Regions from separate parts of the Homo sapiens genome. Here all the other regions are linked to region 1. Evidence: fine-mapped expression QTL. A gene starts in region 1. Each other region holds a variant in brackets. All regions are shown on one strand. Distances are between the middles of the regions.

What was found. PIP is the estimated chance that this variant, and not a neighbour inherited with it, causes the effect.
Region 2: its variant is fine-mapped to the expression of TMCC3 in whole blood (TOPMed, PIP above 0.99).
Region 3: its variant is fine-mapped to the expression of TMCC3 in transverse colon (CEDAR, PIP 0.95).
Region 4: its variant is fine-mapped to the expression of TMCC3 in whole blood (TOPMed, PIP above 0.99).
Region 5: its variant is fine-mapped to the expression of TMCC3 in lung (TOPMed, PIP above 0.99).
Region 6: its variant is fine-mapped to the expression of TMCC3 in lymphoblastoid cells (GENCORD, PIP 0.95).

The regions. Positions count from the first base shown.
Region 1 is chr12:94,648,481-94,653,555 of GRCh38, forward strand. It overlaps TMCC3 (transmembrane and coiled-coil domain family 3), which reads right to left and starts at 2,077. Exons shown (of 4, transcript NM_020698.4): 1 at 1,873-2,077. The coding sequence starts at 1,950. LOC105369914 (a long non-coding RNA gene) reads left to right here. Exons shown (of 2, transcript XR_945225.4): 1 at 1-1,123; 2 at 2,425-2,522. RefSeq lists silencers at 1,321-1,450, 1,541-2,010, 2,031-2,200 and an enhancer at 1,529-2,244.
Region 2 is chr12:94,674,130-94,679,204 of GRCh38, forward strand. No RefSeq gene overlaps it. Among named protein-coding and RNA genes, the nearest start is that of TMCC3, 26 kb to the left of the region's middle. RefSeq lists enhancers at 1,841-1,950, 2,541-2,650. The variant A/G (reference allele first, on the strand shown) is at 2,355.
Region 3 is chr12:94,552,713-94,557,787 of GRCh38, forward strand. No RefSeq gene overlaps it. Among named protein-coding and RNA genes, the nearest start is that of MIR5700, 6.5 kb to the right of the region's middle. The variant C/G (reference allele first, on the strand shown) is at 1,963.
Region 4 is chr12:94,690,978-94,696,052 of GRCh38, forward strand. No RefSeq gene overlaps it. Among named protein-coding and RNA genes, the nearest start is that of TMCC3, 43 kb to the left of the region's middle. The variant T/C (reference allele first, on the strand shown) is at 2,735.
Region 5 is chr12:94,610,274-94,615,337 of GRCh38, forward strand. The region is part of intron 1 of TMCC3 (transmembrane and coiled-coil domain family 3); the gene reads right to left. Among named protein-coding and RNA genes, the nearest start is that of TMCC3, 38 kb to the right of the region's middle. RefSeq lists a silencer at 3,643-3,873 and an enhancer at 3,802-4,391. The variant C/T (reference allele first, on the strand shown) is at 2,453.
Region 6 is chr12:94,820,297-94,825,371 of GRCh38, forward strand. No RefSeq gene overlaps it. Among named protein-coding and RNA genes, the nearest start is that of MIR492, 12 kb to the right of the region's middle. The variant C/T (reference allele first, on the strand shown) is at 2,864.

The sequences.
Region 1 (5,075 bases):
TCTCAAAGTGGTGGGATTACAGGCATGAGCCACCGCCCCCGGCCCGTCAGCAGAATTTTAAAGAAAATCAAGAAATCACATAAGGTTTTGACCTTTTAATAGAAAAGACTGGCGTAGACAGGCAACAGTGGCAGATGCGGCAGAAACACTCTGCAGTTACCTTACACAATTGCTTTACCACATTCCACCTAAGCAGTTGAGGCACAAACTTTATCACCACCATTTTACAGGTTATGAAGAGTGAGTTTTGTAAAGTTGCATGAGTTTTGCCAAACCACTTAAATGAGTTGACAATGAGCCATCCATCCCGCTAAGATTACTAATCTTGTTTACACAAAGAAGATCACAGTTGTGACAAGAAAAAACAAGCTTTCACATTTCAAGTCTGCAATATTAACTTTACAGAATCCTCTCAATTACAAATGCATTCGAAGATGATCTCCTTTTCTTCATAGTTCTGTTAACTAGCATTACAGCTATCCAAGAAGAAATGTCTACCTGTGGGTAAGCACATTTCTTCAATGTTTATTCCAAATGGAGTTTCTGGTTATTTTCACAGCAAACTGTTACGAAACTTATACACAAAGTGCAAAAACAAGAGAATTGTAAGATTGAGATGAGTGCATGAGGTATTATTCCACCAAATATATTCAATCTGTAAAAACTCAAATCATCCTTCCAAAATGATTAACAGATGCTAAAGGAAAAAGGGAAAGCGGGCAAATAAACCAGAGACTCATTGCTTCACTTCTGGGGCAATCGATTACTACTTCAAATTATGAGTGAAGACCAAAATCCTGCACAAAGGGCCGCGACACAACCCCGTCACTATTGCTACTATTTCCATCCAGTTGGTCTCTCGATCTTGGAAGTGGCAGGCCAGAATCTGAGCCCGGCTCTCCCTCCGTGAACTTTACACAGAGGCTGACACCCAAATCCCCAGTTCTCGGACAAGCGAGTAAGTAGTTGGCGGAGCAAAGAACAACTCCAGGTGCCTCCTGCCAGAACAGATGCCAGCGTGGAGGAGGTGCTTTGTTAAATGGCACTTCAATCAGCCCTGGGGAGAACGGGTTACAGAGCCTCACATCCAGCCTCGACGATTCAACAGCCCGGGAGGGCAAAGGTATTCACCGGGGAGGGCGAAGGCTTCCTCTCCCAGGACAGACCCGCGCTTGGGCTGCGGCCTCCGTCTTTATTTTGAAGCCCTACAGGGCTCGTCTCTGCAGCAGGCTCAGAATGAGCTATTTTCGCCCACAGCCAAAATCAGCAACAGCAAATTACACTGCAAACAATGGCGAGGGCGCCTGCTCGGCTCGGCTCGAAACTCCGGAGAGGCAGCGCAAAGATTCTGACTTTTCACTTGGGCAGAGCCCGTCCGCCGCCTCCCCGCGCTCCGGCTGCGCACCGCGCTCGGGTTCCGGCCACACGCCCCGAGGACAGGGAGACAGGGCGGCCGCCGGGACGTTCGGCGGGGAGGGCACCGTCACACCCAGGGCGAGACCCCGGAGACCTGGAGACGCGGGGCCGCGGGTGGCCGGGTGGCGGGATTCCCTCGCGGAGCGGCGGGCGCTCCCTGGCGGGGAGGACAGCAGAGCGCGGGCCGTCGGGGAACCGGGCGTCCCGCATAGCGCGCGGGGACCTGGGCGCCGTGAGGGGCAGGCGGACCTGGGATCCCAGAACCGCAGCCTGGGCTCCGACGCCCCCGACGCCCACCCTTTTAGCTCGGAGGATCGGGGAGGCACGGACCTCCGGCGGCAGCGGAGGGCGGCGGCGAAACGCCGGGGGCGCGTGGGTTAGCACTGAGCCGCCGCCCCAGCCCGCCTCGCCCCCGGGCCCGCGCGCACCCGCCGCCCCCCAGCCCGCTGCGCTCACCCGGCTCTTGCAGCGGTGGTGCCGGCCGGGGTACGAGTAGGTCCGGTCCACGGTGAGCGCCGTGTCGCTGCCCGGCATCTCCGCGCTCCGGCCGCGAACTTTCCCGTCTTCTGGGGCTGCCGCGCCGCGAGCCACCGGCTGTGCTCGGGATCACCCTGGGAGCCGCGGGCGAGGGGGCGGCGCGGCTGCTGCAGCTGTTGCCTCTGGTGCCAACACCCGCGCGGCCGCCCTGCGCCGCCGCCGCCGCGGGGTGGGGGAGGCGGGGCAGGAGGCGAGAGTCTCCTCCCCCTTCCCTTCTCCCCGCCTCTCCCGCGCCCCGCAGCCGCCTGGACCCCCCACCCACCCCCGACCCGGGAGGCAATGTCTTCGCCTCCCTCCCTGGCTGAAAGTTGATTCCATCCCCTCCCACACAGCCCTCTTTCTCCCCAAAAGATAAGCGACATCCACACTACACTATCTGTTGACTTATTTTATATATAAAAGGTGACTGTTACTGCAAGAAGTTGACACTTGCCTTAAATGCCTCTTTTTATGTTATTCTCCATTCAACAGGCACTTACTGGGCAGCTGCCATGTACCAGACGCTGGACTAGAGACCAGAGATTTAAAGTAAAAAAATGAAATAAAATAAAAACTCCCCCCGACCATGATTGCCCTGAGCATAGAGCATACTTCCACTTAAACTAAGATCCTACTGTGTTGTGTATTTTAATTTTGCATATCTGGCTCACCTTTATGTTTCTTTCTTTTTTTTTTTTTTTTGAGACTGAGTCTCGCTCTGTCACCCAGGCTGGAGTGCAGTGGCGCAATCTCGGCTCACTGCAAGCTCCGCCTCCCGGGTTCACGCCATTCTCCTGCCTCAGCCTCCCAAGTAGCTGGGACTACAGGCGCCTGCCACCACACCCAGCTAAATTTTTTTGTATTTTTAGTAGAGACGGGATTTCACCATGTTAGCCAGGATGGTCTCGATCTCCCGACCTCGTGATCCACCTGCCCTAGCCTCCCAAAGTGCTGGGATTACAGGCGTGAGCCACTGTGCCCAGCTTACCTTTATGTTTTAAGCTACTTGGAAGTCAGGATATCTTTTCATTTTAGTATTCCCCATTCCCAGTCATCAGTCCCTGCCCACAAGGAATTTGGAGTTTAGAAGAGGAAGGACCATTGGTGAACAATTTAAATATCAGTAACCCCAAACAAAATTCAAAACACCTGTTCTGGCTCTGTAGGGTGTACAGTGGGAGACTGGGCTGAAATATTTAAAGTGCAGCTGTTCCAGAGAGGACCTGGAGCCCAGTGTGACCAGTCCAGGGGGAGGGAAGGATTTCCCTCATAGGGTTCAAAGGGGACGGTAGAGCAGGCTGAAGAAAACTTTGGAGCCCCTAAAATCAGAGGTACATTTGGGAAAACCTCAAGTCATCAGTTTTGGGGAGTGTCCTCAGGAACAGGAAGACATGATGGAAAAGAAGGCAGAGACCATGCAGAATCTTCGTTCAAGGGTAAGAAGTTCAGCCTTATTCTGTGGGAACTGGGTAGCTGTTGGAAATTCTTGAACAGGGAAATGATAGCATGGGAATGGAAGTTTAAGGAGAAGGTATATCTGACATCAGGGTGAAGCAGCGATTGAAGATGGGCAAAACACACTGGCTTCTTAGAAGGCCACTGTAAAGACAGAATAGCCTAATTATCCTTCAGAAGGAGACTAAGTAAATAAATGATGGTACATCATCCAATAGAATATTAGGTAACTGGAATAGAAATGAGGCAGCCCTCTATGAATAGCTTTGGAAGCAAATCTAACATACATGGTTCAGTGGAAAAAAAGCAATGTGCAGGATAATATATATGGCATTCCACCATTTATGTAAAAACAATATATGTTATGTGCTTCTACATGCACGACATATATCTGGGAGGATAAATAAGAAACTAGGGAAACAGACAAGAAATTGATGCCAAGAGAGGGGAACCAGGTAGCTAGAAGGCAGAGATGGAGAGAGATCTAATTTTCACTGTGTATACTTTTGAAACTTGAATGTTTATACTGTGGGCATATATTAACTATTCAGAAAGTAAAATTTTTTAAAAAATGTTTTTTAGAGATAGGGTATCTGTTGCCCAGGCTGGGGTGCAGTGGCACAATCATAGCTCACTGCAGCCTCAAATTCTTGGTCTCAAGGGATCCTCCCACTTCAGTTTCCCAAGTAGCTAGAACTACAGGTGTGTGCCACCATTTCTGGCTAATTTTAAAAATATATTTTTTTGTAGAGAAAGGGTTAAAACTAACTTAAGAAGAAATTGAAAGTCCCATGTAGTCCTTAAGCCATTCAAAAAATTAAATCAACACTTTTAAAAATACCCATCTACCACTACCCCAACACACAACTATACTAGACCCAGAGAGTTTTTCAGGTAAGTTCTTTGAAAGAAGAGAAATACCAAACGCTGGGGTGTGTGTGTGTGTGTGTGTGTGTGTGTGTGTGTGTTGGAGGGAGATTTTAGCTAGGGTGGCTAGAGAAGTCCTCCATGATAAGGTGACCTTGAGCAGAGACTTGGGAAATGAGGAAGCCAGAAGTATAGACATTGAAAATTTCCAGCAGACAAACAGAAAGTCAAGGGCCCTGAACATTTCGGGAGTGTTCAAGGAAGAGCAAGGAGGCCAGTGTTCACTGGAAAGAGATGAGGTCAGAGACATTTCAGAGGGCCAGATCATATATGGACTTTCATTCTATTTTAAGAACTTTAATTTTAGGCAGGGCGTGGTGGCTCACGCCTGTAATCCCAGCACTTCAGGAGGCTGAGGTGGGCCGATCACCTGAGGTCAGCAGTTCAAGATCAGCCTGACCAACATGGAGAAAATCTGTTTCTACCAAAAATACAAAATTAGCCGGACATGGTGGCGCATGCCTGTAATCCCAGCTACTCAGGAGTCTGAGACAGGAGAATCGCTTGAACTCAGGAGGCAGAGGTTGTAGTGAGCCAAGATCATGCCATTGCACTCCAGCCTGGGCAACAAAAGCAAAACTCTGACTCAAAGAAAAAAAAAAAAGAAAAGAAAGAACTTTAATTTTGGGGAATATGGGAAGATTTGGAAATTTTTGAGCAAAGGAGTGGCATGATCTACCTTTTCACTTGGATGAAAATAAAATTGATCTCTACCTCACAGCATAAACAAAAACCAATACCAGATAAAGGAAAAATAAAGA
Region 2 (5,075 bases), 26 kb after region 1:
CCCATTTGTATCCTAGTAGAAACACACATTTCCTGAGAAAGGGAGCTGGGTCTTAAAAAAGGAAGTTGAAGTTTTTAAGCTGGAGATAAGGCATTTCAAAAGGGAAGAAACTTTTGGCAGGACTCGAGTGCATCCTGCACTAATGGAAATTGGAAACCCATCCTTCATTTCATGAACATTACTATACAAAATGTAAAACATATTGGTACCACAGCAACCAACTCTGCATAATGTACTTGCAGCTTCAAATGGCAACCCTGGGGGAGATAAAAGTTGATTTTTTTTTTTTGCTATCATGAAATGTTGGAATTTCTTAATTCCACAGATATTAGCAAGTGTATATTTCATGCCAGGAAATGTTCTTGGCTCCAAGGATATAGCAGTGAACACAATTAGGTTGCTGGCTTCATGGAGTTATATTTGGAGGTGGGAAATTTTAAAAATTACTGTATAATATAGCAGATTAGAATATATAGGGATGGTATAATATATATTATGGTATATTAGTATATATATTTATCATTATTACATGTGTCACATATAGAAACATAGTATATAATACCATATTATGCAATATAACAAAATATGTCAGGTAGATATAGATCATATCAGATGCTAGTAAATTTTAGAAAGCAGAGAAAAGGGGATAGATGAGTGTTGCATTTCTGAATAATATGTTTTGGGAAGTTCTCATGGATAGGCTGGGACACCTAACTAGAGAACTGAAGGAAGTGAGGGGGTGATACATGTAGAATATCTAGAAAAAGACCATTCTAGGCAAAAGGACCAGCAAGTGCAAAAGCTCCAAGGAAGGGGAGCACTTGATCCATTTGAGGAACAACAGCAAGAAAACCAGCATGGGTGGAGCAGAGTGAGCCGAGCAGGAGAGCGGGGAGGGTGGAGATGAGGTCAGAGAAGCAGCCTGGGGTTAGAAGAACAGCAGCGCAGATCCTGTGGCATTTTCTGGCAGAGTAAGGACTTTTTATGGGGGGGCCAGGGTGGAAGCCGGGAGGCTGATCAGGAGGCTATTGAAACAGTTCAACGTTTCTCTGCATCTGTCCCAGACCGTTCCCTTCCCATCTTGCTTTCTCTCCCAGACCACTGCTGGCTTTTTTTTTTTTTTTTTTTTTTTTAGATGGAGTCCCACTCTGTTGCCCAGGTTGGAGTGCAGTGGAGCAATCTCGCCTCACTGCAACTTCTGCCTCCCAGGTTCAAGCGACTGATTCTCCTGCCTCAGCCTCCCAAGTAGCTGGGACTACAGGCGCATGCCACGACACCTAATTTTTGTTTTTTTGTTTTTTGTTTTTTTTGAGATGGAGTTTCGCTCTTGTAGCCCAGGCTGGATTGCAATGGCACGATCTCGGCTCACTGCAACCTCCGCCTCCCGGGTTCAAGCGATTCTCCTGCCTCAGCCTCCCGAGTAACTGGGATTACAGGCTTGCGCCACCATGCCCAGCTAATTTTTGTATTTTTAGTAGGGACGGGGTTTCACCATGTTGGCCAGGCTAGCCTCGAACTCCTGACCTCAGGCGATCCACCCGCCTCAGCCTCCCAAAGTGTAATTTTTGTATTTTCAATAGAGACAAGGTTTCACTATGTTGGCCAGACTGGTCTTGAACTCCTGACCTCGGACGATCCGCCCACCTCAGCCTCCCAAAGTGCTGGGATTACAGGCGTGAGCCACCTGCCCGGCCATGGAGCCTCTTGCTCCTATGTCTCTTCTGACCTCCAGCCTTACTCACCCATCCATCCAGTTCATCTACACATGGATGGCTCAGTATGTTCAAGTGTGCCCGCCTTCCTCCATGCCCCTCTGGCTCCTCTAGGATCCCACCTTTCAGCAAATGGCACCACCACTTAGTTGCTTAAGACTTCTCTTGGGAGTGTCCCTCCTTTAACACCTCACATCCAGGGACTCACATCCAGAGTCCTGTTGCCGCAGACGCATTTCATTTCCTTTCATGATAACACAGAGGAGTAGAAGGGGCCAAAGGCATAGGAGGAAAACAAGAAAATACAGTGTCACCGGAACCAGGGGAAGTGTGTTGATAAAAGCAGTGGTTAGCATGTACTTCTCACTGTAGCAGACACTATGCTCACCACTTCCCACAAACTATGTCATTTAGACCTCGCTACAATCTGAGGAGGAAGGTGCTACGCCCATTTTGCAAATAATTTAGAGAAGTAAATTTCCCAAGGTCACAGTGTGTACTAAATCCCCTAAGAGAAATAAATTGAGTCTGAAAAACTCAAGTCCACTGAACTGAGTCATGTGGAGACCACCGGTGACCTTAACAAAAACCTGGCCAGTGTCCAGCCGGAAGAAGAGTGAGAAACAAGAGGGAGATGAGAAA[A/G]TAAGGACAGGAAGTTAGCCAACTCTCTCCAGGGTTGGCCTGCAAAGCAGACAAGGAGGAAGATAAGGCTATAGTTGAAGGGAGGGCAGAGGGGCTGGGCACGGTGGCTCACGCCTGTAATCCCAACACTTTGGGAGGCTGAGGTGGGTGGATAACTTGAGGCCAGGAGTTCCAGACCAGCCTGGCCCACATGGCGAAAGCTTGTCTCAAAAATAAAAACTAAAAAAGAGAGTGCTGGGGGAGTGTCTAGGGAAGGTTTTATTTTAGGTGACAACAAAGTAATTTAAATTTCTAAAACTCAACCCCTTTGCAGAGTGTGGGTTAGCATGTCTATGTGAGCAATCAGCACAGAGAAGGTATTTGTTTTCTCTGCTTCCTGCTCCAAGGAAATTCAGATTTTGCTTATGAGTTTGGTTTAAAAAATCATTGGCTATGCATAAAATTTGCGTCCCATATCCTAGAAGATGGGAAAAGCTATAGAACAGAAGGTGTATAACTGGGTCAACAAAATAAACAAAAAGAGGATCTACTCTGGTTTTCTTGGGAAGCTGAAAAATCAGTGCTTTAGAAAAAACCAGTCAAGCCAGACTATTCTGTCACAATGTGGTGGAGAAACCCCAACACTGAACCCAAAAGCAGATGACCTAGTGGGCTGCTCTTTCCGGCCAGCCACTGTCTAGCTTTGTCATCTTGTATAAGTCACTCAATTCAGGGTCAGCATCCTCTGTGGATCAAGGAGCTAATATTTATTATGCCACACTTGGTTCTGGGCAGAATCAAACAACTGAATCAGCCAGAAGATTGACAGAGGATGCATGATTTCAAACAACTGAAATCAGCCAGTAAAAACGCTTTATACAAATGCAAGGTATTCCCAATATCTATCATAATTGAAGGTAAGCATTAAAAGATACTTATGGGCTAGGTACAATGGCTCACACCTGTAATCCCAGCACTTTGGGAGGCCGAGGCAGATCGCCTGAGCCCAGGAGTTCGATACCAGCCTGGGCAACATGGTGAAACCCCATCTCTACAAAATATACAAAAACTAGCCAGGCATGGTGGTGTGCACCTGTAGTCCCAGCTGCTCGGGAGACTGGGGTGGGGGGATCACCTGAGCCTGGGAGGTTGAGGCTGCAGTGAGCCGTGATGGCACCCCTACACTCCAGCCTGGGCAACAGGGGAGACTCTGTCTCAAAAAAAGAAAGAAGATATTGTACACAGTCTGGAAGCAAGCTGTTTGGATACATGTACATTCACCAACTGATTCAAGATTTTTAAAAAATTCAGTGATAGCTTAACAATGCCAGATATATAACAACAAACACCTGCATATTTACTTTTCATTACAGCTGGTGCTGTTGAAGCTGATTTCCAGTGAATCAGGTTAAGCCAGGCCTAAACTTGTGGCCATGACTGGTCTGTGAAAATGCTCAAAGTGTGACATACTTTCAGTTTGCTCTGGATCTCACAGCATACCAATTCAGTACACAGGTCCTGCCACAGAGGTGTTTCTGGCCTGTGATTTAATAAGCAAAGAAAAACCAGTACAGCCAGTCTAATTATTAGAGCAGCCAAGCTTTCAGACTCTCTTAAATACTTCCAACATCAGGCCTCCCTCAGGCAGGGCAAGATTACACATGACTCCAGCCCGGTACCAATTCCCTAACTGTCCATTTCCTATGGAGACATGGATATGGCCTTCTCTAATTAGAGGGACAAAGACAGAAGAGAACCATTATTAGGACTTTACTTTTTATCCCGTTTTAGTTCTAAAACATTCAAGTCCTGCCCTTCACTGATCACTATTACAAATATTAAAATGGGGGTAGGAGTGGTGGATTAAGTGCCACAGAGACCGAATGCATCAATTGTTTCACTTATGGAACATTCTGGGCTCTGAGAACCTCGGAGTAGGAGTGAATCAATCGTACATCCAAGCAGATAACAGCTCAAATCACCAGCTCAGCACAATTCTTCTGGGCACCCTCTTCTCTATCTGCAAAAAGAGACTGGCTTTCCTTCCTCCTCTTGCCCTCCCTCCTGCCCCCACCCCACCCCCGCCGCGCCCTAGGCCTGGAGTCTAGGGCTGCCCAATGACAGGAACACCCAAATCAGCACTGTCTTCTGGGCTGCGTTGGCTTCTGTGGTTGTAGCTAGGAATGGCCAGCAGGGCGGGGGTTGGGTGGGGTGGGATGGGGGCCGTGGGGGTGGCTGCACAAGGAATCATACACCTTTGGTAATACACTTACCGTTTACAAAAAGTTGAGAGTCCACATAACCAGGAATGTGTAATTCATGCAGCTTCCTAAAACTGCCAGGGAATTATTCTTGCCTCCAAGTCAGCCCTGGCTAGGATCGTAAGTATTATAAATGCAAAAAGAATAAAAAAAAGACAGTGCAATTCTTATTTAGTGGGTATTCAGCTCTCAAACCTGAGGGATGGACTAGGAGATTAACATGATGCTCACCAGCCTCTGAGACCTTCCACAAACGCCCTCTGACCAGTCTTTCCCACCTACCCTCCTGCACTCCCGCACCCTCTGCCCTGCAGTCATTCTGCCTCACTCACCGCGCCCTGCACGTGCCTTGCCTCTCCCTTTGTGCTTTTGCAGGTTATGGTTCCGCTGCTGCATAGAATAATCCCTCCTCTCTCACAGAAATTCCTCCCATCTGGGCCCAGATCAAATGCTCCTCCTCAAAGAAGACTTCTCTGATTGC
Region 3 (5,075 bases), 96 kb before region 1:
ATGCTCTGTCTGAGACCTGCCTTAAGTTGAGGGCAGTAAAACCTCCATCCTGGGCACCTCAGAAGAAATCTGAAGAAAAAAAACAGTTGAAGAATCTTCTCTTTCCCCTCTCTCAATCCTGAAAAGGGTGAGGAGTTCAGGAACACAGGGAGAGGCCCTCAAACCTGCGCTTTGGAAATTCTACCTATAGTGACTTGGCTTTGAAATGTTATCTTCTGTGTTTTAGCATCTTGGGCAAAACTGGTTTAATCACCCACCTCTGGAATGCTTTTTTTTTTTTTTTTTTTTTTTTTTTTTTTTGAGACAGAGTCTCATTCTGTCCCCCAGGTTGGAGCACAGTGGCACGATCTCAACACATTGCAACCTCTGCCTCCCGGGTTCTAGCAATTTTTGTGCCTCAACCTCCCAAGTATCTGGAATTATAGGCATGAGCCACCATGCCTGGCTAATTTTTTTTTTTTTTTTTTTTTTTGGTAGAGACGGTGTTTCAACATGTTGGCCAGCCCGGTCTTGAACTCCTGACCTCAGATGATTCACCAGCCTCAGCCTCCGAAAGTGCTGGGATTACAGGCGTGAGCCAGCGCACCCGGCCTTGGAATGCTTATTATTGAGAAAAATAAACCTCTATTGTTTTAGCCAGTTTTGGCTCAACATTCTATTACTAGCCACCAAAAGCAGCTGAACTGCTTCACTGTGCTGGGTTGGCTTCATGACTCCCCTGGCACAATAAAGACAAAGCCCATCATTTATGATAGTAAAAAACTGCAGATACCCAACAACAGGAGATGAAACCAATGAAACACATACATGATGGAAAATTGTGCAGGCACTTCAAGTGACAACTTATAGGAAAAAGTTCATATTTTGCTAGATTATATACATGCAGAGCAAAAAGACTAAGAGGAAATATGTAAGAAAGGTAAAATTCAATTTGGTTGAGAAATGGAGTAAACATATATTATATATGCATAGAAAATAGCTGGAAGAATACACAATACACAGATATCAACAGTTGCATCTGGGGAGGGGTCTTGGGGATCTGGGTGGGAAGGAAGGTTACTTCTGAATTTTTCAACCATGTGCACATATTCTTTTTTTTTTTTTTTTTTTTTTTTTTTTTTTTTTGAGATGGAGTCTCACTCTGTCGCCCAGGCTGGAGTGCAATGGTGCAATCTCAGCTCACTGCAAACTCCGCCTCCTGGGTTAAAGCAATTCTCAAGCCTCAGCCTCCCCGAGCAGCTGGGATTACAGGTGCGGGCCACCATGCCTGGCCAATTTTTATATTTTTAGCAGAGACAAGGTTTCGCCACGTTGGCCAGGCTGTTCTCAAACTCCTGACCTCGTGATTCGCCTGCCTCGGCCTCACAAAGTGCCGGGATTCCAGGCGTGAGCCACCGTGCCCGGCATGTGCATATATTCTTTTCTCAACTGAGGAAAGTAGTAGTTTCGTGGGTAGGGTTGGGTGGTGAAGGTTGTTTTTGTTTAAGTTCAACGTTTTTGGAGGGAAAGGGATAATAATGGTTTTCTCTAGGTGGAAGAATTAATGCGGATTTTTATCTTTCTCTGTCTCTTCTATATTTCCCCAAATGTCTCCAAGTCATTTTGTATTACTAAAATAATCAGGAAAAAACCCACAATAAAATGCTCTTCCTTTCCTTGTTCCCTTTCCTTCCAGAATAATTCAGTTTTAAAGCCATTAGCAGTTAGTTGAACAGAGTAAGGCAGGGACCCATGGTGGGAGGGGCTGGTAGCCTAGAGCAGGGTGGCCGAGCTCAGGCATGGGGAGGAGGACACAGGGGAGGGGGTACCCGGCAGAGTCATCAATCCAGAAGGGTGGAAGAGGGCTTCCTTGAATGGGCAGCCTGGAGCATGTGTCAAAGCCAGAGAGGGTGGCAGGGAGGTACATGCACTGGGGCCACCAGCAAGGTTGTCTTAGATCCAAGTAGGGCGAGGCAGTCAGCA[C/G]TGTTAGTACCCAACCATCACCCACATGGTGGAGATGTGGGCAGCAGAGATGGGAAATTTGTTATACAGAGGGAGTGGAGAAAATGAGTAAATATGTTAGAGACAATGGAAGTCCGTGCTTTCACTGTAGGAGAAAGAAGTTACAAATATGGAAAGGAGAGCTTGAATAAACCCAGAGGTGTTGATTGGTATTGGAGGTATTAGTGCGCACTCATGATTTTCAATATAGACATAGATGCAGAAATCAGCAGAGATTTAAATTTTTATATAAATGCATATAAGTATATAAATAAATACAGACATTGTCTTAGTCAGCTCAGGTTACTATCACAAAATACACTAGATTGGGTGGCTTACACAACAGACATGTATTGCCCATAGTTCTGGAGACTGGGAAGTCCGAGATCAAGATGCTGGCTAGGGCCCTCTTCCTGGCTTGCTCCCTACCTTCACACTGTGTCCTTACATCATGGGACAGAAAGAGAGAATGAGAAAGAGAGACTGCTGCTCTTTTTTTTTTTTTTTTTTTGAGACGAAGTCTTGCTCTGTTGCCCAGGCTGGAGTGCAGTGGTGCAATCTTGGCTCACAGCAATTTCTGCCTCCCAGGTTCAAGCGATTCTCCTGTCTCAGCCTCCCGAGTAGCTGGGATTATAGGCATGTGCCATCATGCCCAGCTAATTTTTTGTATTTTTAGTAGAGACGCGGTTTCACCATTTGGCCAGGCTGGTCTTGAACTCCTGACCTCAAGTGATCCACTTGCCTTGGTCTCCCAGAGTGTTGGGATTACAGGTGTGAGCCACCTCGCCCAGCCATGCCCTCTCTTCTTATAAGGCCACTAATGCCATCATGAAGACCCCACCCTAATAACCTAATTTAACCTTGATTACCTTCCACAAGCCCCATTTCTAAATACTATCACAATTGGGACTAGGGCTTCAACATATGAATTTTGGGGGACTCAAAGATTCAGTCCATAACAGATGTCTATGTATGTACCTGTATCATTACATACTATACACACATACATATATCCATATACAAAATGTATTCCCTACCCTGTCTACTATGACGACCTGGGAGTGGTGATGCCCTAATAGCAGAGCAAACCTAGAATCCAGATCTTGGCTTTAAAATGCAGTTTTCCACCAAATGCAACCCAGGCTCCTTACAAGAACGGTCAGTTCTAGGTCTAGGGCAAGGAAAGTACAACATGAGCCTGGAGCACGTGCTTGCTCAAAGAATAATGAGGACATGGCAAAAGGACACAAAACATTGCTTAAATGAGTTCCCACAGCTGTACAGGGTTCAACTTGTTATTAAAATGAATAATAATCATGGATTACAACCCTTTGAATAAAATAGGAAACAGTGATTCCATACTAATATTAGCAAATAGATGAATAAATTGAAAGTTTGGTGAGAAATGGGAGGTACAACATACTTCTCCACTAAATCCTCATTAATTACTCATGGGGACAAAACATCTTTACAGTGAAGGGGCCTAGAAGACACCTTAATTATCAAAGCAAAATCATCAATAATGGGACAAATGGAAACTGAGCTCTATGTGACAGGATGCAATGAGAACAGTATCATTTCTGTGATGTTCTGGCCAAAGATGGATAACTTGAGTTTAATCACAAAGAAACACCAGATTGTGGGACATTATACAAAATGACTGGCCTATAATCTTCAAAAGTGCCATGATCATGAAAGTCAAGGAAAGATGGGAGGAATTCTTTCATTCAGGAGACAAAAGAGATAACTAAAGGTAACCTGTAATTCTGAACTAGGTCATTTTGCTGCAAAGGCAATTATTGGGACAATTGGTGAAACTTGAGTGGGGTCTAAGGACTGGATGTCAGTAAGACATCTATTTACCTTCCTGATTCTGACAGCTGTATTATGGTTTTGAAGGAGAGCGTCTTTATCTGTAGGAATTACACGTTAGAGTAACTGCATGTGACCGGATATCAGGTTGGCAACTGATGGTTACTCTCAGGTGGTTCAGGAAAAATATAATTCTTTGTACAGAACATCCAACTTTTCACTAAGTTTATGATCAGTTCAAAATTTTTAAAAATTTAAACAAATAAATTGATTTACATATAGAACTGAACATCTCTAAATATATAGTAAACGTTATTACATATTATATTTTTATTTATGCATTAATAATGTATAAATATAAAGTACTAAAACCTGGGAGCAGATCTCAACTTCCTTATGCCCAATGGGAATCTTCAAGCCCCTGAAGTTCCAAAGAGGTTCCAAAGAGAGCGAGCCAGGCCTTGGGAGGCTGCATAACTATAACTGAAGGCTGGGTCCCTCTCTATACCTTCTGACCATCCTATTCTGAGAAGATGGCTTTCAAACATCCTAGAAAACTCAAAATCAGAAATTCTAAATTTCTAATATTCTGTCCCTGGGCTCTCTATTCTGTTCCATTGGTCTATCTGTCTGTTGTTACGGAAGGATCATGCTGTTTTGTTTACCACAGTTTTATATATATTTTGAAATCAGGTAATGTGATACCTCCAGCTTTCTTCTTTCTGTTCAAGATTGCTTTGACTATTTGTGGTCTTTTGGGATCCCATATATATTTCATAAGTGTTTTTTTATTTATGTGAAGAATGTCATAGATATTTTGATTGGTATTTCATTGAATCTGTAGATTGCTTTGAGTAGTATGGACATTTTAACAATAATAATTATTCCAATCCATGAACATGGGATATCTTTCCACTTATTTGTGTCTTGTTCAATCTCATTCATCAGTGGTTTCTAGTTTTCAGTGTACAGATCTTTCACCTCCTTAAGTTTATTCCCAAGTATTTTAATTTTTGGTAGCTATTGTAAATGGAATTTTCTTAATTTCTGTTTCAGATAATTTGCTGTTAGTGTACAGAAACACTGCTAATTGTATAGTGTTCTCATAAATCACTGAAATCCCAGAAATTCTGCTAATTCAGGATCCCAAAGGCATGCCACAGATTGTTTCATGTCCCTGGAAGTGACTTGATGGTTTGGCATCAGACAGAGGAGGGTTTGATTTCCAATTCTACCATTTCTGTACCATTTCTCACCCTTTCAGCACCATTGCCTCTTGTTCC
Region 4 (5,075 bases), 42 kb after region 1:
ACTGGTATTCTGTAAATATTTGTGGAATGAATAAATGAACAAATGAGGTAGAAAGACAGGGTACCACGAGAATCCTCTTGAATAAAATGGAGAGTTTTGAAAGGGATTAAATTGCTATTGTCATGTTTAATTTTACTGGAAAATATTTGTAATTCTACTGAAACACCAGGTTGGTGTGGTCTAGAGAAAAAAAATACTAGACACCATTTTTTTTCCATATAAGACAAACCAAAGCAAGGAACTTCATTTTTTAAAATTTATTATTTTTTTTTATTTTAAATGTTTTTTTTCTGGGTACATAGTAGGTGTATATATTTATGGGGTACATGAGATGCTTTGATACAGGCATGCAATGTGAAATAAACACATCATGGAGAATGGAGCATCCATCCCCTCAAGCATTTATCCTTTAAGTTACAAACAATCCAATCACATTCTTTAAGTTATTTTAAAAATATACAATTAAATTATTATCGACTATAGTCACCCTATTGTGCTATCAAATAGTAGGTCTCATTCCTTCTATTTTTTTTTGTATCCATTAACAATCCCAACCTCCCCGCCAACCCTCACTACCCTTCCCAGCCTCTGGTAACCATCCTGTTACTCTCTATGTCTATGAGTTCAATTGATTTGATTTTTCGATCCCACAAAATAGGGGACTTTAGGCAAAAAAATAATTGATGCCTAGTATGTGCCAAATATGGTGTAAATAGGAGGTGAGAAACCAAGATAACTTGTGTATATAATGCTATACACCTGGAGTTATTATGCAAACATACAGAGTTACAATAATTGAGCACTTGCTGCATGCCAGACACTATGTAATTCTTCTACTACCACTAAGATGTTGTACCATTATTATTTCCATGTTACAGATTTAGAAACTGAAGCTCTGAGACATTAAAAAAAAAAACAAAAAACCCAGCTCAATACAAGGTAACCTTGAAAATAATATGACACTCGAATTTTCCAGTGAAAAAATTACCCTCTTCCAGAGATTTTTGGCTAACCTGAATTAAAAAGCTTTTAGAAATGACAGCACAAAATCTCATACACATTGTTCAAAATAAGAAACCTACCAAGGTCACTGACTTAATTTTTCCTTTGGTCAAAAGAAGAAGAGACAGAAATAAGTTTCTGAATTTATTTCTCAGAGAACAGCTGTGCCCACTGATCAAACTTAATGTAATCTTTGGGAGTTACAGTTACCAATTTGAATAATGTTACCCCATGACAATTAATTAGCATGTAATGTTATTTCCATTGGAGACATTATTAAATTTTAGAAAGTCTAGATGTCTCCAAGTGGGCTTCTTAGAGATAACTCTGAAAGGATATTTAATGGTAACGAAACACAGGGTAGGATTTTACTGTGGGAATGTTTTCAGGCTTCCATTTTATCCAGCAGCTTTCCTCTGAATGGCTTTACTGTTTATCACTCAGTGTCATGCGCTCGCTCTCTCTCTCTCTGTGTGTGTGTATATATAATATATATTATATATATTATATATATTTATATATATATATATATATTTTTGATACTGAGTCTTGCTCTGTTGCCCAGGCTGGAGTGCAGTGGTGCGATCTTGGCTCACTGCAGCCTCCTCCTCCTGAGCTCAAGTGATCCTCCTGCCTCAGTCTCCCAAGTAGCTGGGACTACAGACGCATGCCACCACGCCCAGCTAATTTTTGTATTTTTGGTAGAGACAGGGTTTCGCCATGTTGCCCAGGCTAGTCTTGAACTCCTGAGCTTGGGTCATCCACCCACCTCGGCCTCCCAAAGTGCTGAGATTACAGGCGTGAGCCACTGCAGTCCCTATATTTACATCAACAGCCTCTCTTAGAGGCCTGGAGTTTCTCTATGATATGGTTTGGCTGTGTCCCCACCCAAATCTCATTTTTAATTATAGTTCCCGTAATTCCCACATGTTGTTAGAGGGACCTGGTGGGAGATCACTGAATCATAGGGGTGGTTTCCCCCATACTGTTCTCATGGTAGTGAGTAAGTCTCACGAGATCTGATGGTTTGATAAGAGGAAACCCCTTTGGCTTTGTTCTCATTCTCTCTCATCTGCTGCGATGTAAGATGTGCATTTCACCTCCCACCGTGATTGTGGGGCCTCCCCAGCCACATGGAACTGTGAGTCCATTAAACCTCTTTTTCTTTATAAATTACCCAGTCTCGGGTATGTCTTTATCAGCAGCATGAAAACGGACGAATACAACCAGCAATGCTAAAAAGGAAAAATACACTTTCAAGACCACAGGCAAGATTTTATTTGCTGGGTCTGAATCAGATACACAGACCCCAGACAAATCTAAGGCTAAGTGAAAGAATACGAGAAGAAACAGATTTTCAGGAAGGAATGTGAGACCTATAGCATTTTTCTTCCAGGGATGAAATCATGTGATAATCGGACATCTACTATCCATCAATTTCATTCAATAAACATATTTCAAATGTCTTTATCATGATTAGAGCCAGCCACTTTTAAGCCAACTAACCATTTTCTGAAGTCTTTGTCCTGTCTACTTTGTTTCCTCCATAGAAACACACATGAAAGCAAACACAGCCCCTTCCTCCACTACATTTGTTAAGTAGCCGCATATTATTTCAGAATTTATTACCAATTCTCTAAATTGAACATTGGGTTATTTCCAAATGCTCAATATTACAAAGGACATTGAAATGAACATCCTATGAAGAAACTTCTACACACGATCTTAATGA[T/C]TTCCAAAGAATAGTTATGTCAAAAGTGTGCATGTGCCTAAGGTTTTCAATACACATTGCCAAACTCTCCAGAAAGATCACGTTATAGTTAAGGCAAACTTTTCACTACGTTTCCTGGTATTATCATTGCCACATTTGCCAAGATTTGGCTGTAACACTCAATAAATTTTTTTCAAAACCATTTTTATTATAGTGTATAAGAAGCAAAGTAGGTAAAGTACACAAGCTAAAGTATACAGTCTGATGAATTTTTACATAGGTATGCCTCTGTAACATCACTTGTATCAAAATACAGAATATTTCCAACACCCAGAATGTTTCATTATGACTCTTTCAAATCAATACTTCCCAGCCCCACCCTGGCATAAGGGATAATCTTTTTTTTTTTTTTTAACTTCCTTCCATAACCACTAACAAGTTTTACCTCTTCCTGAACTTCGTAAAAGTACTCTTTTAGTGTCTGGCTTATTTCACCCAACATGATATCTTTGAAATTCATCCATGTTCCTGCATGTTTCATTAGTTTATATTTTAATTAGTTCATTATTTATATTGCTATGAAGTATTTCCCTGTATAGGAAGCACCACATTTTATTGTATCCATTCCCCTCTTGATATCCACTTGGATTATTAATTAGTTTGGGGCTGTTAGGAATAAGGCCGATATGGACACTATTGTGCATGTCTTTTAGAAGACACATGTACATATTTCTCTTGGTTGTATACCTAGTAGTGGAACTGCTATTCTTGGGGTGGGTATACATTTAGCTTTAGTGGAAATTGCTGGTTTTTCAAAACGGCTGAACCAACTTAAATTCCCACCACAAATAATGTGTGAGAGTTTCAGGTATTTCACATAGTTACCAACATACTGCTTAAACCTTAAGGTACTTGGTAGATATATGACATGACAGTCCTTACGTGTTCAATTTTTACATCAGTAATTTATTCTAGAGTTTACCTGTAGTATACAGATTACAATAATGAGGGAGGAAGTTTAGTCAGTTGATTTAAGTGGATGATCCTAGGTAGAGAGGGTCCCAATTATCCTGGTCAGCATGTCTGAGACCGTCCAAAACAAGGGTGCCCCACTCCGGGGCCATGGACTGGCACCCGTGCATGGCCTGTTAGGAACTGGGCTGCATAGCAGGAGGTGAGTGGCAGGTGACCGAACAAGCGAGCGAGCAAGTGGAGCTTCATCTGTATTTACAGCTGCTCCCCATCACTCACATTACCACCTGAGCTCCGCCTCCCATCAGACCAGAGGCAGCATTAGATTCTCATAGGAGCATGAAACCTATATGAACTGTGCATGCGAGGGATCTAGGTTGGGCGCTCCTTACAAGAATGTAATGCCTGAGGATCTGTCACTGTCTCCCGTGCCCCCCGAGATGGGACTGTCTAGTTGCAGGGAAACAAACTCAGGGCTCCCACTGAATCTACATTATGTTGAGTTGTATAATTATTTCATTATATATTACAATGTAATAATAATAATAGAAATAAAATGCACAATAAATGTAATGCACTTTAATCATCCCCAAACTATCCCTTCCCCTCAACCCGCCCACTGTCTGAAAAATTATCTTCCATAAAACCAGTCCCTGGTGCCAAAAAGGTGGGGGACTGCTGATCTAAAGTGCAAAAATGTCAAAGAAAAATCCATATGACCTTTCAAGTCAAGTTATTCACCTCCAAGATGAACCTCTAAGATGTGACAGTCTATAATATGCCACAGAGTCAACAATCTAAAGAAAGATACAGGCACCTGTATCTCAAATCTAAGAGGGCCTATGTTACTCTGCACATTAAGACTTCTCATCTCCATGAGAAGTCTCAAAAATTGTTAAAAAGTCTATTAAAAATCATAATAAGGCCTATAAAACCTTTAGACTTTACCTAGTTGAGGCCTTACATGTCCCTGAGAAGGATGTATTACCGTGTTCATTTTATAAATAAGTGAACTGAGGTTTTTTAAGAGATATAGCTACTGAGATAATGAATCAGTCTCAAAGGCTATGTAGAAGAACCAATTTCAATTCGTTGTCCTCCAACTAATCCATTGCCGGACTTTTTCCAAATGCACACTTACAAAAAGTAATTTGTAACCGTCTACCTGGAAGATCTAGCCATCTGTTAGACACCTGGAGCCAAGAATGTCTGAATCTGCACGAATGCCAAGAAGTGTGCAAAACTGAACTTGCGATCTGCCCCACCATTTCCTGGGCATGCCCAGGGTGGCAGCGGTGCTGGTACCTTCCACCTGCCCCTCAAGATCCACCCCATCTTCTCTGGGAGTCCAGTGTACATGGCTGCATCCATGGACAAGGCTTCCTGCTGG
Region 5 (5,064 bases), 38 kb before region 1:
ACCAAGTGTAAATACATTCCTTTTCCCCAGTGTTTTGGTTACATATCATAATCTCCTTCACCATCATGATCACCACAAGGAAAGAAGGGCTAGGAAGAAAAAACCATCTAGCCCTTTTGGGCTTCCATATAGTTCTGAAAACACCTTAAGGCAGGCAAAAAAAAAAAAAATTTTTTTTTCAAGAGATATAAAGAACAGAAATGGAGATGAAAATATTTACAAGTCTTCTGCCTCTTTCTCTGATTCTTCTATGCTGCTTCTAAAAAAATGATAGTCTGCCACCCCTACCACCACCACCACCACCAACCACCCCATCTGCTGCCAATTCTGCAAACAGCATAGACATCCATCAATAGAGAACCTCTTTTTAAAATTCTAGTACAATGGGAAATGATGCAGCCACTAAAATGGAAACGGATCTGAATGGGCTACCATGGGAAGCTATTCAATCTAAACTGTTAAGAGAGAAAAGCAAGACGCAGGGCTATGCCTACTGTGCACGCTCATCTGTGCTTAAACGAGGGGTGGAGGGATTTATGATAGATATGTACAATTGTATACTCTATGTGTATGAACATTTCTAGAAGCTGTCTTAAGAACTGTGGATGGTAGTTACCTCTGGGGAATAGGACTGGGAATCTGCAGACACAGATACTTTTTGTTTTATATTATCTTTTTGAGAGAGTAATTCATCTTATTTTCATATTAAAAAAAAATCCCCAGTGCCTGAATTTCAAAGTGAGACTAATATGCAAATACCTGCAAAATTTCATTAGCACACTTAAGATACTTCCTTGTCTCCTCCAGTGACCTATGATTTTACTAACAGTAGCAAAATAAATAATCTATAGGATAGTAGGCATTTTTGTAACTCATCCTAACTGAATTTTGTTTATGTAATTACTTTTAGAAAAGTAACTCCCTACTGAAAAGAGAAATTTTAAATCCCATTTCCCAAGGAAATAAAACCATGGCTTAAAAGGTAGTTCTAAAACAAATTTTATGGGACTAAGCTGGAATTGCCAAGTCATAAATATAAGTTTTCAAGTAAAAGTCCCATTAAAATATTGAATACTAATGTTACATCTTTCTTAAATAACTTCATAAAATGCTGTCTTTTTAAGGGACCAATGCCACTGAAATATTTCTACTGAGAACTGGGTTGCCCAAGGCTCACAGCTTTGAATCTGTATTTCATGGGCAATGATGTTTTCCATAAAGACTCTTCACTGAGAATACTCATACAAGCAGACCATGGCAGTGTATGATAGGCGTATATATACAGTTGTCCCTTGGAATCCATGGGGGATTGGTTCTAGGACCTCCTGCAGATACCAAAATCTGCGAGTGTTCAAGTCCCTGATATAAAATGGTGTAGTATTTGCATATAATCTACATACATCCTCCTGTATACTTTAAATCATCTCCAGATTACTTATAATACCTAATACAATGTAAATGCTTGTAAATAGTTGTATTTTTTAGGGAATAATGACAAAAAAAAAAACACTCGGTACCTGTTCAGTACAGATGCAATTTTTCTTCCTAAATATTTTTGACCCCTGGTTGGTTGAATCCATGAATGTGAAATCCGTGGATGTGGAGGGCCAACTGTATATCCATTCATGGCAACTGAAGGGTCACAGAGTTCATCTAGAGACTGTTTACATATAGTTCATGTGATTCCTGAGGCTAGACTGTTTTACCTGTGATTCTCAGGTTTGGTGTTTTTGTTTGTTTTTTGAGACAGTGTCTTGCTCTATCAACCAGACTGGAGTGCAGTGGTGCAATCACAGCTCACTGCAGCCTTGATCTCCTGGGCTCAACTGATCCCCCTACTTCAGCCTCCTGAGTATCTGGGACTACAGGTGCACACCATCATGCTCGGCTAATTTTTGTATTTTTTTGTAGAGACGAGGTTTCACCATGTTGACCAGGCTGGTCTCGAACTCCTGGGTTTCAAGCAATCCGCCTGCCTTGGCCTCCTAAAGCTGGGATTACAGGCATGAGCCAGCGTGCCCAAATGGTTCTCAAGTTTATTTTATTTATTTTTTTTGAGATGGAGTCTCGCTCTGTCACCAGGCTGGAGTGCAGTGGTGCGATCTCGGCTCACTGCAATCTCCGCCTCCCGAGTCCAAGTGATTCTCCTGCCTCAGCCTCCCGAGTAGCTGAGACTACAGGTGCCCGCCACTACACTCGGCTAATTTTTTGTATTTTTGGTAGAGACGAGGTTTCACCATGTTGGCCAGGCTGGTCACGATCTCTTGACCTTGTGATCCACCCGCCTCGGCCCCCAAAGTGCTGGGATTACAGGCGTGAGCCACCGCACCTGGCCTCAAGTTTTAAAGTTTGGTTTTGTCCTTCAAAAATTGTTTCTACAGCTACAACTACAAAAAAGGAATAATGTTATCTCCTTAAGGTTAAAGTCAGTTTCTCAGAAGACAAAGCAAGA[C/T]AGAATTACTTGCACTTTTAAAATTTTTTCAGTGGTTCTAGGATTCATTTTAAAATGAAGCAATGCTAAAAGCAGACTGCAAGGTATATTTGCAGTGTTTGATTTTAACTGATTCTTAAAACATTAAAAACTGTTTGGCATTTGAGCATGTGCATCCCCTAGAGACCCAGAAATTCCATTTGTAGGTTAGAGGAGCAAGTGCCCCTGTTAGGAGCACATTGAAAATATACACAGCAGCATCACTTGCAAAAGAAAAACAATAAAAGCAATAACAAAAGACAACCCACAAATAATCCAAAGCCTATGGGCAATAAAATGGAGAGATATATATACACGCACATTGGAGATATATATATATATACACACAATAAAATGGATACACACACACACACACACACACATTGTGTTTATTTGTACAGTGGAATGAAATAAACCAGAACTACAAGAATTAAAATGGGCCAGGCACAATGGCTCCCACCTGTAATCCCAGCACTTTGGGAGGCCGAGGCTGGTGGATCACATAAGCCCAGAGTTCGAGATCAACATGGGTAACATGATGAAATGCTGTCTCTACCAATAATAATAATAATAATAATTAGCCAGGCATGGTGGCACACACGTCTGTAGTTGCAGCTATTTGGAAAGCTGAGGCAAGAGGATGAGCCTGGGAGGTTGAAGCTGCAGTGAGCCAAGATCACGCCACTGCACTCCAGCCTGGGTGACAGAGCGAGACCCCGTCTCAAAAAGAATAAAATGATTAAATCTTAAAAGAAGCAAATCAAAGAACACATACTTTATGAATTCTACTTTATAAAGGTCAAACGCAGGCAAACTCTTTTTTAGGTATGAACACACATGTGATAAAAAGAGAAAAATCTTGAGAATAGTTAAACCTTATGGCAGCGATGACCTCTTGGGGGTGGGAAGGCTTGTGATGTAGGGATGCTCAATCAGGGAAGGTCACAGGGTCAAGTTCATCTCCTCACCCTGGGTATAACGTACAGGGGTGTTTCATGTATTTTTTAATGGAATATCTTCTTTGTATGATATTAGTTTACAAACATTTTAAAATAAAAACTATGGAGTAGGCCGGACGCAGTGGCTCATACCTGTAATCCTAGCACTTCAAGAGGCCGAGATGGGCGGATCACAAGGTCAGGAGATCGAGACCATCCTGGCTGACACGGTGAAACCCCATCTCTACTAAAAATACAAAAAAATTAGCCGGGCATGGTGGTGGGTGCCTGTGGTCCCAGCTACTCGGGAGGCTGAGGCAGGAGAATGGCGTGAACCTGGGAGGCGGAGCTTGTAGTGAGCCGAGGTTGCACCACTGCACTCCAGCCTGGGCGACAGAGTGAGACTCCATCTCCAGAAAAAAAAAAAAAAAAAAACTATGGAGTAAATTACACAGTAAAATAAAATGTGTGTGTGTGTTTGCTTAAGCTGTAGAATGAATGTCTTCTGTCAATCCTATTGCTTTATCTCTGGCTCTATACTTAACTCGTTGGGTAATAATGTTAAAATCTAAATTTGAGACCCTACTTAAATTGTGACCTGGTCTCAAAGGTCCTCGGGTCACCACTGCAATGATCTTCTTGGATCATTATCCTCACTGGTTACACACAGGAATGTGAAGCATGCAGTCAGGAGAAAGCCCTGTAATTGCCCCCAGGCCACAAGTAATCCCCCTGGAAGCAAAAACAACCTCCTCTCCATAAACTGACTAGAAAGGAACAGGTGGGAAGGACAGCAGAGGGGTGGCCAGCATTGTCAGGGTTTCTCCAGAATGGCCTGTCAACCAGGACAAGCCCTGTTCCCACATCTTTTTGAACAGCCTGGCACAGAAAGCAGCTCTGACTGTTTTACAAGCAGCACTCTTGCAGTTTGGGGAGCCATTTTCCCTTTTATTCCAATTGAAACTGTGTGCATCAAGCTCTGTCAACTGTTGCACTCACAGTGTTACGAGGCTATTGCATGATATGCTGTCGGAACAACTGGCCTCTCTGACTTTTTTCTTTTTTTAAACAACAGACAGATTTTTTTTTTTTTTTTTGGTTTGAGACAGAGTCTCACTCTGTCACCCAGGCTCGTGTGCAGTGGCGCGATCTCAGCTCACTGCAACCTCCACCTTCTGGGTTCAAGTAATTCTACCTCAGCCTCCCGAGTAGCTGGGATTACAGACGCTGCTACCACTCCCAGCTAATTTTTGTATTTTAAACAACAGAAATGTAACCTCCAAGACCCAAATGATCAAATGACAAGCAGCAAACTTTTCCAACTTTCCCTCCTCTCCCACCCCCAGGTGTTTTGGTTTCTGAAGACTGGGGATCACTATCAACAATGGGCAAACCTTTGCTACAGAACTGATTAGGACAAAACCACCTGAATTAATAAATGTGTGCAAATATTTTAATGTTCAGGGAAGGAAAGAAAGATTGCATTTTGTGTCAATATAGAGAAGTCTTCTATGACAAAGAGCCACAAGTGAACACAGATTTCCTGTGAGATCAAAGGCTCCCCCAGGCAGAAATCACATGAACCTGAGCCTTCACCACCCTATGGGGAATGAATCCCACACTATGGGGTGTCCAAGCATGGTCCGAGGAGGCCCA
Region 6 (5,075 bases), 170 kb after region 1:
TCTTACAATCCTACCATCACTATAAACTAGCCAAAATTAAAATATATCTGGGCAGACAGGAGACCCAGATGGGTAGGAACTAAATATACAAACATTTCTCTCAGTAGAGAGAAAAACCAAGAAAAGGGAAGAAATAAGATTCAAAATGATCCCAAGAGGCACATCCTGGGGAAAACCCAACAAGATAAATATAGTAAGTCCTCAAAAGATGCTAGTTACTAGTATTATCATTAATGTTAAATAGTAATATTAACTGTAAATCCCTGCATTTATATTGAAGATAGCAATTACATAAGAAAAGATATTAGAGAACTGGCTTAGCCAAAATCCACAGGAGAAAATAAAATTTGCGTTTTGGCTAATCACAAGCCCAACACGTGTCAGCACTGCAATGTAGCTGATAAGTAACTAACACCACTGGGCAGCCCTCACCCAGAGCAAAGGAGCTAACAGGCTCACAAAACTCTCCCAGCCAGGCCATATCTGATGTGTAGGTTTGATTTAGGCACAAAAGATATAGACAATCGGAATTGCATCTAGCAAGAAGTGACTATCACAGCTGTAAGTCTGGAATCCAAATTAAACACAAAATAGTTGATAGAACAGGTGGCAACCATGGAAGTGATGGTTTAAGGTACTCTTCGATATTTGAAGAGCTGCCAATAAAGAATGGCACTAGTTGTTTTGTGTCACCAACGGGTGAAATTTACAGGGGAGGCTAAGTTAGGCTCCATACATAAAATGATTTTCCAATACTTAAAATTATCCAAGAATTGATCCCACGGGCTTGAAAAGTTTTAAGCTTTCTTTTTGAAAGTGCCTGGGAGCCAGAAGATTATCAACCAACAAGAGCAATCTAAGGATTCCTCTGGTGGGTGAAGGGATGCACTCTGAAGTTTCAAGGCCCCTTTCAGCATCAAGAATCTGCAATTCTATGGTTCTGACTATAGCTGAGCTTCATCAGATTAGTAGACAGAGCCCAGTGCTACCCTCTCCTCCCACTCATTTTTGCATGGTGAATGGTAAATATTCTTGGGGCGAGGCGCAGTGGCTCACGCCTGTAATCCCAGCACTTTGGGAGGCCGAGGCAGGCGAATCACAAGGTCAGGAGATCGAAACCATCCTGGCCAACATGGTGAAACCTTGTCTCTAAAAAAAAATACAAAAATTAGCTGGGTGTGGTGGCATGTGCCTGTAATCCCAGCTACTTGGGAGGCTGAGGCAGGAGAATTGCTTGAACCAGGGAGTCGGAGGTTGCAGTGAGCTGAGATCGCACCACTGCACTCCAGCCTGGCGACAGAGCAAGACTCCATCTCAAAATAAATAAATAAATAAATTCTTGGTAGACTCTGGAAAAAATGATCAAATAATACTTGTGTCTCCAATATTAACTAATTTGTGTTAAATACCCTTTTATTCTACTTAAACTCTTGTATTTCTTATCTGCAAAAGGACCTAAATGAGAAGATAAAGGTAAATTAACTCTGAAAACCTTTAAAGCAATGTAAGGGATATTTTTATAATTATTGATGTTTATCAATAAGTAGAGAAGCACTCAACTAATTTTTTAAAAAAGAAAAATTTGCATATAAAGCAGTCATTTTTCTTATCTGACTTCAATTGTAAATTGCTGAGGAAGGTCTAATTTCACCTTCTATCTCAAGATTTGGTAGCCAAAGTTACCAAAGGCCTGCATAGTTACCAAAGGCCTGAACACACAATTCCAGGAAGGTGCCCAACACAGTGTATTAGCAAGAGAACTTGGAGGCTGGGCTTTGCCTTCTGTCCTCAAACAGGAATAAATGTAGATCCAGGGAGAATGAAAGAGTAAAAATTGGGACATCTAAACTAAGAATAAACCAAAGAGACAGGAATATTTGGGTGCTAAGAGGCAAAGGCCAAACACAAACTATAAAAGAAAAAATTGATTAACTGGACTTCAGAATTAAAAGCTCTCTTCAAAAGTCACCATTAAGAAAATTAATTAATTACTCTACATATTTACCAGTGAAAGAAAAGGAAAATGAAATGCAAGCCACAGATGGGTGAAAATATTTATAAATGATATCTGATAAGGCACTTATATCCAGAATATATAAAGAACTCTCACAACTCAATAATAAGACAAGGAACTCAATTTAAAAATAGGCCAGGCCGGGTGTGGTGGCTCACGCCTGTAATCCCTGAACTTTGAGAGGCCAAGGCAGGCAGATCACCTGAGGTCAGGAGTTCAAGACCAGCCTGATCAACATAGTGAAACTCCGTTTCTACTAAAAATACACAAATTAGCCAAGCATGGTAGAGCATGCCTGTAATCCCAGCTACTTGGGAGTCTGGGGCAGGAGAATCGCTTGAACCTAGGAGGCAGAGGTTGCAGTGAGCCAAGACTGTGCCACTGCACTCCCACCTAGGTGACAGAGCAAGACTTCACCTTAAAAATAAATAAATAAATAAATAAAAATAAAAATAGGCCAAAAATTGAATGGACATTTCACCAAAGAAAATATATAAACAGCTGAGTGGGTTCCAAGATGGCCGAATAGGAACAGCTCCAGTCTACAGCTCTCAGCGTAAGTGACCCAGAAGACAGATGATTTCTGCACTTCCATCTGAGGTACCGGGTTCATTTCACTGGGGCTTGTCAGACAGTGGGTGCAGCCCAGGGAGTGTTAGGTGAAGCAGGGCGGGGCATCGCTTCACCCGGGAAACACAAAGGGTCGGGGAATTCCCTTTCCTAGCCAAGGGAAGCCGTGACAGATAGCACCTGGAAAATCGGGACACTCCCACCCTAATACTGCGCTTTTCCAATGGTCTTAGCAAACAGCACACCAGGAGATTTTATCCCACGCCTGGCTCGGAGGGT[C/T]CCAAGCCCACGGAGCCTTGCTCACTGCCAGCACAGCAGTCTAAGATCGAACTGCAAGGTAGCAGCAAGGCTAGGGGAGGGGCATCTGCCATTGCTTAAGCCTGAGTAGGTAAACAAAGCGGCCCAGAAACTCGAACTGGGTGGAGCCCACTGCAGCTCAAGGAGGCCTGCCTGCCACTGTAGACACCACCTCTGGGGGCAGGGCATAGCTGAACAAAAAGCAGCAGAAACTTCTGCAGACTTACACGTCCCTGTCTGACAGCATTGAAGAGAGTAGTGGTTCTCCCAGCACGGAGTTTGAGATGTGAGAACGGACAGACTGCCTCCTCAAGTGGGTCCCTGACCTCCAAGTAGCCTAACTGGGAGACACCTTCCAGTAGGGGGCCGACTGACACCTCATACAGCCAGGTGCCCCTCTGAGACAAAGCTTCCAGAGGAAGGAATATTTGCTGTTCTGTAATATTTGCTGTTCTGCAGCCTCCGCTGGTGATACCCAGGCAAACAGGGTTGGAGTGGACCTCCAGCAAACTCCAACAGACCTGCAGCTGAGGGTCCTCACTGTTAGAAAGAAAACTAACAAACAGAAAGGACATCCACACCAAAACCCCATCTGTACGTCACCATCATCAAAGACCAAAGGTAGATAAAACCACAAAGATGGGGAGAAACCAGAGCAGAAAAGCTGAAAATTCTAAAAATCAGAGCGCCTCTTCTCCACCAAAGGAACGCAGCTCCTCGCCAGCAATGGAACAAAGCTGGACGGAGAATGACTTTGACAAGCTGACAGAAGTAGGCTTCAGACGATTGGTAATAACAAACTTCTCTGAGCTAAAGGAGGATGTTCAAACCCATCACAAAGAAACTAAAAACTTTGAAAAAAGATTAGACGAATGGCTAACTAGAATAAATGCGTAGATAAAAGCTTAAATGACCTGATGGAGCTGAAAACCATGGCACAAGAACTATGTGATGCATGCACAAGCTTCAGTAGCCGATTCAATCAACTGGAAGAAAGGGTATTAGTGACTGAAGATCAAATGAATGAAATGAAGTGAGAAGAGAAGTTTAGAGAAAAAAGAGTAAAAAGAAACAAACAAAGCCTCCAAGAAATATGGGACTATGTGAAAAGACCAAATCTATGTCTGATTGGTGTACCTGAAAGTGACAGGGAGAATGGAACCCAAGTTGGAAAATACTCCTCAGGACATTATCCAGGAGAACTTCCCCAACCTAGCAAGGCAGGCCAACATTCAAATTCAGGAAATACAGAGAACACCACAGAGATACTCCTCGAGAAGAGCAGCTCCAAGACACATAATTGTCAGATTCACCAAAGTTGAAAATGAAGGAAAAAATGTTAAGGGCAGCCAGAGAGAAATGTCAGGTTACCCACAAAGGGAAGCCCATCAGACTAACAGCAGATCTCTCAGCAGAAACTCTACAAGCCAGAAGAGAGTGGGGGTCAATATTCAACATTCTTAAAGAAAAGAATTTTCAACCCAAAATTTCATATCCAGCCAAACTAAGCTTCATAAGTGAAGGAGAAATAAAATACTTTACAGACAAGCAAATGCTGAGAGATTTTGTCACCACCAGGCCTGCCCTACAAGAGCTCCTGAAGAAAGCACTAAACATGGAAAGGAACAGCCAGTACCAGACACTGCAAAAACATGCCAAATTTTAAAGACTATCGAGGCTAGGAAGAAACTGCATCAAGTAACGAGCAAAATAACCAGCTAACATCATAATGACAGGATCAAATTCACACATAACAATATTAACCTTAAATGTAAATGGGCTAAATGCTCCAATTAAAAGACACAGACAGGCAAACTGGATAAAGAGTCAAGACCCATCAGTGTGCTGTATTCAGGAAACCCATCTCATGTGCAGAGACACATATAGGCTCAAAATAAGGGATGGAGGAAGATCTACCAAGCAAATGGAAAACAAAAAAAAGCAGGGGCTGCAATCCTAGTCTCTGATAAAACAGACTTTAAACCAACAAAGATCAAAAGAGACAAAGAAGGCCATTACATAATGGTAAAGGGATCAATTCAACAAGAAGAGCTAACTATCCTAAATATATATGCACCCAATACAGGAGCACCCAGATTCATAAAGCAAGTCCCTAGAGACCTACAAAGAGACTTAGACTCCCACACAATAATAATGGGAGACTTTAACACCCCACTGTCAATGTTAGACAGAT